Regions from separate parts of the Homo sapiens genome. Here region 2 is linked to region 1. Evidence: fine-mapped expression QTL. Tissue or cell type: whole blood. Region 1 holds a variant in brackets; the other region holds the start of a gene. All regions are shown on one strand. Distances are between the middles of the regions. Region 1 has its middle 47 kb from the start of MAGI2. Region 2 holds the start of MAGI2-AS3 (MAGI2 antisense RNA 3).

What was found.
Region 2: it holds the start of MAGI2-AS3, and the variant in region 1 is fine-mapped to the expression of MAGI2-AS3 in whole blood (INTERVAL, PIP above 0.99).

What each region holds. Positions count from the first base shown.
Region 1 is chr7:79,497,686-79,503,069 of GRCh38, forward strand. No RefSeq gene overlaps it. Among named protein-coding and RNA genes, the nearest start is that of MAGI2, 47 kb to the left of the region's middle. The variant C/CT (reference allele first, on the strand shown) is at 2,285.
Region 2 is chr7:79,450,466-79,455,849 of GRCh38, forward strand. It overlaps MAGI2-AS3 (MAGI2 antisense RNA 3), which reads left to right and starts at 2,492. Exons shown (of 4, transcript NR_038346.1): 1 at 2,492-2,726; 2 at 3,122-3,190. MAGI2 (membrane associated guanylate kinase, WW and PDZ domain containing 2) reads right to left here and starts at 3,202. Exons shown (of 22, transcript NM_012301.4): 1 at 2,555-3,202. The coding sequence starts at 2,855. RefSeq lists an enhancer at 1,648-1,942.

The sequences.
Region 1 (5,384 bases):
TCCTACACTTCTCAGCCTCTAGTATCCACTGTTCTACTTTTTGTTTCTATGAGAACAACTTTTTTTAGCTTCCATATATGAATGAGAACATCCAGTGTTTAACTTTTTGTTCCTGGCTTATTTAACTTAACATAATGTCTTCCATTTCCATCTATGTTGGCGTGAATGACAGGATTTCATTCTCTTTTATGGATGAATAGTATTGCATTGTGTATATATACACCACATTTTCTTTATCTATTCATCTGTTGTTGGACGTCTAGGTTGATTCCATATCTTGGCTATTGTGAAGAGTGCTGCAATAAACGCAGAGGTACAGATGTCTCCCTGAAATACTGATTTCCTTTCACTTGGATAAATTCCCAGTAGTGGGACTACTGGATCATATGGTAGTTCTATTTGTAGTCTATTGGGGAAATTCCATATTGTTGTTCTCCATAGTGGCTATACTACTTTACATTTCCACCAACAGTGGATAAGAGTTCCCTTTTCTCCGTATTCTCACCAGCATTTATTTTTTTGTCTTTTTGAGAATAGCCATGAGATACAATGATATCTCATCATAGTTTTGATTTGCATTTATCTACTGACTAGTGATTTGGGGCATTTTTTCATATATTTGTTGGCCATTTGTATGTCTTTTTTTTTGAGAAATTTCTGTTCAGATAATTGCCCATATTTTAGTTTGATTTTTGTTTGTTTGTTTGTTTGTTTGTTTGTTTGCTTATAAGATGTTTGAGTTCCTTATATATGCTGGATATTAGATCCAAGTCAGATGAGTAATTTGCACATATGTTCTCTTATTCTGTAGGCTGTCTTTTCACTCTGTTGATTGTTTCCTGTGCAGAAACTTTTTAGTTTAATATAACCCTATTTGTTGTTGGGTTTTTATTTTTCACTTTTGTTACATGTGCTTTAGAAGTCATTCATAAAATCTTTTCCCATGTCAATGTGCTAAAGCATTTTCCATACATTTTCTTCTAGTAGTTTTATTGTTTCAGGTCTTACATTTACATCTTTGATTAATTTTGAGTTGATTTTTTGTATAGGGTGAGAGGTGGAGGTCTAGTGTCATTTTTCTGCATATAAATATCCAATTTTCACAACACCATTTTTTAGAGAGACTGTCCTCTCCCCAATGAGTGTTATTGGCACCTTTGTCAAAATGAGTTGGCTGTAAGTGCATGGGTTTATATTTGTGTCCTCCATTCGGTTACATTGGTCTATGTGTCTGTTTTTATGCCAATACTATACTGTTTCGCTTACTACAACTGTGTAGTATATTTCGAAGGCTGGTAGTGTAAGGCCTCCAGCTTTATTAATAATTTCTAAAAATCATCAAATATTGAGTCAACATTCAAATTTCTTCACATACCTGATAAAAGCTTTTTTCCTCCTCCCTCCCTTCTAATTTTTCTTCCTTCCTTCTTTCTTTCCTTCCTTCTTTCTTCTCTTCCTTCCTTTCTTCTTTCCTGAGACTGATGATTATATGCAGAAATTCATTCAAGATTTATAGATATAATCACATTTTTATGAAGTATACTCTATATGTGGAATACTGATATTAACATTCATTGATAATGTAGAAGATGCTTCTGATTCTGGGGCATCATAATAGCTTAACCAAGCTCTAATTTTAACCATTGATGCAACGGACAGTTCCATGAGAAATCAAACTCATTGGACCTGACAGCATCTTATGGCAAGCACACTGCCTAAATTTTCACCTGCTGTGAGTACCTTCCCTGAAGCTATAGGGCAAATGAGCCAGAGGTGCAGAGGGGTTAAACTCCAGAGCTTGGGGGATTGCCATACTTTAAATATACATACATATACATATATACACATATATACATGTATATATAAATATACATACATATACATATTTACATATATACATATACATATATATATAATTTTTTTTTGAGATGGAGTTTCGCTCTTGTTACCCAGGCTGGAGTGCAATGGCGTGATCTCGGCTTACTGCAACCTCCCCCTCCCAGGTTCTAGTGATTCTCCAGCCTCAGCCTCCCTCCAAACCTCATGTTAAAATTTGATTCCTAGTGTTGGATGTGGGGCCTAAGGGGAGGTGTTTGGCTCAAATGATGGATCCCTCATGAACGGCTTAGTGTCATCCTCATGATAATGAGTGCATTCTTGATTTGTAGGTTCCCACGAGAGCTGGTAATTAAAAAGAGCCTGACATCTCCCTCCTTTCTCTTGCTTGCTCTCTCATCATGTGATCTCTGCACACACCAGCTCCCTTCCCTTTCTTTTTTTTTTT[C/CT]TTTTTTTTTTTTTTGGAGACGGAGTCTCGCTCTGTCGCCCAGGCCGGACTGCGGACTGCAGTGGCGCAATCTCGGCTCACTGCAAGCTCCGCTTCCCGGGTTCACGCCATTCTCCTGCCTCAGCCTCCCCAGTAGCTGGGACTACAGGCGCCCGCCACCGCGCCCGGCTAATTTTTTGTATTTTTGGTAGAGACGGGGTTTCACCTTGTTAGCCAGGATGGTCTCGATCTCCTGACCTCATGATCCACCCGCCTCGGCCTCCCAAAGTGCTGGGATTACAGGCGTGAGCCACCGCGCCCGGCCCTCCCTTTCTGCCCTGAGTGGAAGCAGCCTGAATTTCTCACCATAATCAGATGCTGTCACCATGTTTCTTGTACAGCCTGTAGAATCATGAGCCAAATATTTTTTCCTTATGAATTACCCATGTTCAGGTTTTCCTTTGTAGCAACACAAAAACTAAGACAATGCCCCAATTCTCCTGTCTTTTGCCAGTGGGGGCTCATTCAAATTGGTTTTGAGTCCTTTTATTAAACAATTTTATTGCACGCAAAAGAATGCTCACACGTTACCTGTCCAGTTTAATGAGCCTGGACAAATGTAAAAATCCATGTAACTACTACCCAAGGCAGGATACGGCACATTCCTACCACCCCATAGACTCCCTCTGCCTCCTTAGAATTAGTCTGTTTTTACTTCAACCCCAAACAACACTTAATCTAATTTATAACACTAAAAATTATTTTTTCAGTACTAGAAATTCACTTAAGTGGAATTTTGCAGTATGTATTATTTTGTGTCAGTCTTCTTTCATTCAGCAAAAAGTTTTGAGATTCATTCATATTCTTTTGTGTAGGTAGTTCATTCTGTATTTATTGCTGAGTATTGTTGCACTGTATAAATATATCAAAGTTGGCTTCACAGTCACATAGTCTTCCATGATTAGGCATGCTATCTCTACCAGGTCCTAGCTGTACACCAAGGGGTGTTCCCAAAAGGCCTATAATTCAATGCTTCATATCCCATGACCTTGCTACAGGACCCCTATGATCTGAGTTATAGTTCTCTGATTGGGAAAAGTCATGAACTCCACATCATGTATTTTCCCACCAGTGATAACCTCTAATATCATGACATCTGCAGAGAGGCTTACATCACAGCCTGAAACCTTTTTTAAATTAACTTTCTATTTTGAGGTAATTGTAAATTAACATGAAATTGTAATAAATAATAGACATAGATCCTGTATACCTTTTGTACAGTTTCCCTCATTGGTGAGCTATTGCAAAATTATGGTAAAATAGAAAAATGAGGATATTGACATAGATTCACTCAAGATCAAGTATGTTTCCATCACCACAAGGATCCCTCATGTTGCCCTTTTAAACTCACATCCACTTTACTTCCACCTCCATCTCCTCCTTAACTCTTGTTTTCCTTTTCTGTAATTATGACATTTAAGTAATAATGTGTAAATGGAAACAGATATTATATGTTTGGAATTGGCTTTTTTCACTCCTTGTAATTCTCTGGAGATTTATCCAGGTTGTTGCATGTATTGATAGTCTTTCTTTTTATTGCTGGGTAGTATTCTATGATCTGATTATACCACAGCGTGCTTAATTATTTTGGAGGATATCTGGGTTGTTTCCAGATTTTGCCTATTACAAATAAAGGTGCAATGAGCATTCATATAAAGGTTTTTGTGTCAACATGAGTTTTAATTTCTCTGTGATAAATGCCCAAGAATTCAATTGGTAAATCATATGGTAGTTGCATGTTCAGTTCTTTAAGAAACTGCCATACTGTTTTCCAGACTGGCTGTAAAACTTTATATCCCAGTCTCTCTACATAGTTGTCAGCATATGGTGTTGTCACTATTTTTTTATTTTAGCCATTCTGATTGATGTATAGTGATATTTAATTTTGATTTTAATTTGTATTTCCATAATGACTAATGATATTGTGCATCTTTTCCTGTGCTTGTTTGCCATCTGTTTATCCCACTCTGTGAAATATCTGCTCATATCATCTTTTAACATGTCTTGACTATTGTTCCAGTACTTTCTAAAATGTTTGAGTATTTTCCTTTTCCTAACATGCAGTTACCAAAGTAAATGACTGCAGGTCCTTTTAGGAAAAGACTGAGACTGGTGACCATTTATACTTGTCATTATGAGAATTTTCAGGAGTATCAGCCTAGATACACCCATGATGCCTCAAGGTCCCATTGTTTCCCCAAAATGGTCTGAACCTTGAAATAGCATATATTTGCCATAATTGGGAGTTCATCCTTTGCAGCTAGGCTAATCTGATAATTAAATCTTGACTTTGTCCTGTGTTCACTTCTGGAAGATGAGAGCCTTCTTGTATACCACTAGGAGGCACTAAGGCTTTCACAGTTAGTTTTTTAATTGCTAATTAATCACACTTGCCTATATATTATCTTACTCAGAGTGAGCTTAGTAAAAACCATTCAATTCCACTATTCTTATAATTGCAGTTTCTCTCCGTATTTCTCCAGCAGCTTTACACTGTGCCAGCTAAGGCATTCACATCCTTTGGTATGCCACCCCAGTACTCCACGATTGTTTCAACAACTGTGCTGCCCAGTTGTGAAAGGGATTATCTGTACTCCACTTACAGATTGCCATGTGGTGGGGAGCAAAGCAGCTTCAAATTCCCATCCAAGTATGGCTTTCTTGAGTTACTCCTGGTACTACCTGTGCCAGGTTAGATTCTTAGGGAATCAGAATCTGTGATGGAGATTAGTATACAGGTGGTTTATTTAGGTTTTGGGGGATCAACACCTCTGGAGCGGAAGGGAAAGAAGCAAGATTTTCCAGAAAGAGAACAAGAACTCAATCCAGTCTCAACAGAAGCCTCAGTTGATCTTCTGGGGAGATGTGAAGATGGATTGACCCTCCAGAGATACTCTGATTGAGGGAAGGGAGACAGGTCTTTCTATGCCGCTTTTACCTGGGAAGGAGATATAACCATGGGTGACCTAGTTCTCTTCAGCCACCTGATGGAACAGATACTTGAGGATTATCTGCCAGACTTGCTCTTAGCATTTCATTTAACAAGGTATCTAGGATATTA
Region 2 (5,384 bases), 47 kb before region 1:
AAAGAAATATTTTGTTTTGTTTTGTTTTTGGTCAGCAGTGGTTCAGGAGATGAACCAACTGTGGGCTCTCTGGCTATCATTATACAAATTTATCATCAATGAACCAGTGAAGCACGAAACTGAGGGTTAATATAGAATGAAAAGAGACTTTCCCCTCAATATATCACTTTAGAAGCATATATTCTGAGTTCTAAAAGCAATAATCTTCCACATAAAATTCAATACAAGAGTGATCTCCAACCACATTAGATCAAATTATGGCAAGATTCAAATAATATCTAATCCAGGTCCTCATCTTATATAGGAATCCCTGGCATATGGTCATTTCAGCCTCTTCATGGATACCCACAATGATGGGAACTTCAGCCAACAGGGTGCTCACAAATTTTTGGAAAACTCTGTTAGAAAGCTCATGATTTAATGAAAGTAAAGCTGCTTCATCCTTTCAAATTTCTCATAGATTTATCACCATTTTGTCCTGTGGGCTATCACAGGATAGTCAGAATTCCTTTTCTTACCTGATAGCTTTTCGCTATTTAATGATAGCTTTCATTCTTTCACTTCTCCACGTTAAGTCTTTCCACGGCATTTCATAGAATACATCTATAATACACAATAATCTTCCTTTATTTCTCTTTTGAACTTACTCTTTGCTAGCGTGACAGTTTGCCAACGTCCGCCTCAACAAGGAGTGCTCAGAATTGAACACAACATTTAAGATGTGATGATCATTGCAAACTATAATAGGGCATCCGTTTGTGGGACTCTATTAAGTCCAATTTAACAACGCTTAACTTTTGCAGCCACGTTCCATGACAAATATCAAGCATTTGGCCAACAAAACCATGGTCATTAGTTGTGTAGTAGACTTTTCGTACCCAAAGATCTTTCCATTTATGTCTATTCCTATAAGGTGGTATTTTGACATCGAACATGTTAACATGAATCTCTGTATTTGAACCTTAGGTATCTTATCTTCAAAAATATCAAGTTACTCTATTTTCCTTCCTACCAAACTCATATCCCTTCAGTGTTAAATAGTATGGAGCTATGTTGACTTATAATAACCTATCTCAATTTATTACCTCTTAATACTCAAGAATACCCAAGGAAAACATTTTCTTGTATGGCAATTTACATTTAAGAAACCTTGCCCAGTACTTCTTTTTATCTTGTTTATTTTAAAACAAGTTTTTTAGAGAATAATTTAACAGTGCGGTACATCTCCGTAAAAGCATTTCTTAGTAGTTGATCATGATTAAGCGGCAAAATGCAGGTAATGACATGCTCAATTCCACCTTTGAGTCAGGACAAACAGTGTACATCGACGACAACAACAAACCCTTATGCTAATATGCCTGTGACGCAAATATCCATACATACCGCACACGAATTGTGCAGTGAGCTAAAAAAGAAAACAGAAAAGAAAAAAGCTACTACTTTATTCTACTTAAAGTTGTCCTCTATTCAAACTTTTATCTCACTCTTCTCTCCTTCTGCACCATAATTTTCTTTCGAGCAAAGACAGGGAGTTCTGGATGATTCCAATCTCCCCAAATCCACATCACAGCCTCCAATTGAGGTTCATTTAAGTCAGGTTGGAGCTGAGGGAGCCTGGGCTGGAACCGGCCAGGGTTTCATCCAGCTCCTCCCCCAAAACACGCCCCCCAAATCGGAGCCAGAGGAGAGCCCAACCACAGAGGACTTCCACTCAATGAGGGCAACCCCTGAGTAAAGTCCATGCGGACAACCATTCATCTCCTCCGACAACCATTCATCTCCTCCGACCCCCGCCCAGCACTAGACTGCGCTCCTAGCACCGCGCCTTCTTCCGGAGCCTCCTCCCCCGGGCTGGCTAGGGGTGAGCGCAGGGGTTAGTCAGTACGCACGTGACGCGCGATGCCCACATGACACGACCGTGAGCGGGGGAGGGGGACACGGAGTGAAGAAGGGGAAAAGTTACAGAAGACCCGTCAAAGCGCCCAAAGCAATTTGTCCCTTCTTTTCTTCGCCAGCGGTGGCTCACGGATCCCTAAGGGACAGCTGGGGACCCAGGCGCCCCCAGCCCAGCCCCAGAAACGCTGGACGCAGTTCTCCGCTCACCCCACCACCTTCTCTTCCCAGACCCGCTGGTGATGCCGCTGCACCCTGAAGTTGCTCCTTCCTTCTTTCCCTCCCTTCCTCCCATTCTTTCTTTCTTTTCTTCCTTCCTCCCTTCCCCAAAAGCTCTTCATCCGCTTCGGGTGATGCCACTGACGCACATTCAATTTGCCCCAGCAGCTCTGAGGAGGTCAGACCAGGCCGAGCACCTTCCAAAGGGGAGGGTCTAACTGAGCAAACAAAGTTGCACGCCACACCACAACCTGCCCCTCCCCTCCCTTTAGCCCCCAAGTCGAATCCCCGGCGAAACTCACTTGCACTGCGGGTGCTCTCTGGCCCCCACCCCATCATCGCGCAACACACCCCCTTCAACATGCGCGGCCACCCTTTCATTGCCCTGCGCCCCGAGCGGTCCCACCGCCCGGCAAAACACTGAGCAAGCCGCTGCTCTCACCTTGCTTGACACACTTGAGCCGGAGGGGGTCCTTGCAGTGTTTGATCACGGCCAGCACGTCCCTGATGGTGAGCCCCGCCACGGGGGTCTCGTTCACCTCCAGCAGCAGCTCCTCCGACACCAATTTGCTGCCGCTCTCATAGGCCACCTTGCCGGGCTTCACCTCCCCCAGGTAGGGGAACTGTCCATTCTCGGCGCCCCCCTTCAGTTCAAAGCCCAGCTGGCCCTCCGGGTTCCTGCCAATGACACTCTCATGGACTTTGCTAGTCCAGTGGCTTTTCTTTTTCAAGCTTTTGGACATGGCAGTGGGGCGAGTCGCCTCAGTTCCTGGGCTCCTTGGGGTTAGGGGGGCTGGTGGTGAGAGAATGAGGATGGAGGAGCAAGGGGGCCCAGGGGGAAGAACAGCAGACTTTGCCTTCGCCCCCCTCTATTCGGTGCTTTCCCTCTTCTTTGGATGGAGTGTGGACGAGGAATGGGGAGGATGAGAGGGACGGCTGGGCAGAGGTAGGAGAGCTTGGATGAGGTTGTGCTGTCCCTTGAATGACACTCAAGGCTGTGGCCCCGCAGCAGAGGAAGCAGTGGTGGTGGCGTCGGCGGCGGCGGCGGCGGCAGCCGGAGCGAGCAGTAGCCGAGCTGGTGAGCGGGTGTGGTGGGGGTGGGGAAGGAGGGTAGGGATGCCGGGGGCCACTCCTGCGTGGTGCGAGTGGGAACGCGCGCGCGCGCCTGGGTGTGTGTTGTTAGCTGATATCCATGGCAGCTGCAGTGGCAGGGTGCGTGTGCGTGTGTGTGTGTGTGTGTGTGTGTACTAGTTCTACTGTACTGGCAGACGGGAGGAGGCAGGGGAGGAGGGGCGCGCGCGCCGGGTGGGGAGCCACGGAGGGCTTCGCCGCTGCCTCCCTCCCTCCCTCCGCAGCTTGACCCGGTAGTGAAGGCAGAGAGAGAGGCAGGCTGGGTCCGCCTGGCAGCCTACGGGAGGAGGCGGGAGCCGGGAAGGAGGGGAGCCTAGGCCCGGCGTGGGGAGGCCGGCAGGAAGGGCCTCGAGCCCAGTGCGGACCTTTCTTCAGCCTCTGTGCGACCGAGCCGCGCGCCAGGCTCCTGTGCGAGGAGGACGCGCTGACTCCCTCCGACCTGGGCTCCGATGGAGCAGAAATAGCGGGACCTGGACTTGTGGCGCGCCTGGTGCCACATCTCGGGCTCTGCGAGCGTCCTGGCGCGGGATCCTGCCGTGAGAAGGAGTTGGGGCGGGGGACCCGGCGGGGCATTGCGGGAGAAGGCCTGGGATCCCTGGGAGCCTTGTAGCGTGGGGGAGTTCACTGTGTAGAGAGGTTTCATGTCTTCATCTATATAGTCACTTATTTGTCTTAAAGTTCTCGAAATTCCCTCTTAGAGAAGGAGAAAGTTAGAGAACTGGAGGCTGCGTACCCTGATTACGCAGAAGGGAAGCAGCCTCGCATTCCCCGGGGCAGGCCCCCGCCCGCGCGTCCCGCCAGTAGGGGAATTTAGCGGACGGCTGCGGTTGTCTGGTGAAAGGCTATCCAAGGATAAGGGGCTTCACTTTTCCCAAGTAGGGGAAAGAGAAGGGGTCTACAGGGCTAGGGGTGGAGGGAGCGGATGCAGTGAGCAGCCTCCGCAGAGAAATTGACAATTTAACCAGGGACCTGCGGCAGAGACAAGGCGGAGACACTCCCTTGCCCAGGAAAGCCGCCAGAGTCCGGCTTGTACCTGGGGAAGAATCCTTAAGACGGTCTGGCCCAACACTCCTTTGCTCACAGAGAAAGGGGAGAAGACTCCCGAGGGTGAAAATGGTACATTCGGAGCTGGAACTCAGCTCGCTGACCCCAAGCAGTGTTCCCTTCTTTTCGCCAGGTTTGCATCCAAGAGAGGGGAGGACAGGGGCAAAAGGATGCAGGGAGGCTGCTGATTTCCACTGAAGAGCTAATTTCCTGTGAGACATTAACAGTGATTTAAGAAAAAGATTCCTGTAACTGGTAAATGAATTTCATTTGCTTAACTTTTAGATGATATGTTTCAGGCAAAAAAAAAGTTGTGCACCCACTTATCTCTTTAAAGCGGAGGATGAAAAGCATTGAATAGGTAGGATTCTTAATGTCTGAGATGAAGGCGATGTAGGAGGCAAACAATACGGTTAAAAATGTTGAGTCGACCCAAACAGAAAGACCAGGTTTCAATCCAGACTCTGCGGCTTACTGAGAATATGATCTTGAGTAAACTGCTTGACCTTCCTGAGCCTCAGCTTTCTTAGTTGTTAAATGGACTTTAACAATACTAATCTGTTAGGACTGTGGTGAGGATGAAATCAGGGAAATCAGTCACAGCAGTGCTCTCCTGGCACAGGTGAGTAGGAGTTCGAAATGATAATTCCCTCCTCTTTCCCTCTTAGGTATAACTTACTACTTGGGGATGAGGGGGATCAAATGTAGTCAGAACTGGAAGAGATCTTAAAAAAAGATGATTTGTTTAACCTTGTGTCTTTTTTTCACTTGAGAAAACAGATCCTCCGTAAGTTGGCTGCACTAGTTGAAGCTTATTCAGTGAGCCAGGGGCAGTGCCAGGATCTGAAGCCAGAGCTGCAGGCAATGCCCAGGAGTAGGCAAGACTTGATAGCAAAGCCTAATCTCACCCAGAGAAGTTGAGTGTTAGCATTATGAGGCATAGTTCTAAATGGAAACTCATCATGAGAACCGAATATATACATATTGTAAAACCAAATGACAAGCTACCATTCATGGAATATACTAATATTTATTAGGTTCTAACTACATGCAAGATGTTGTTTTATAGGCTTTACACATAATACTTAATTTCTCCT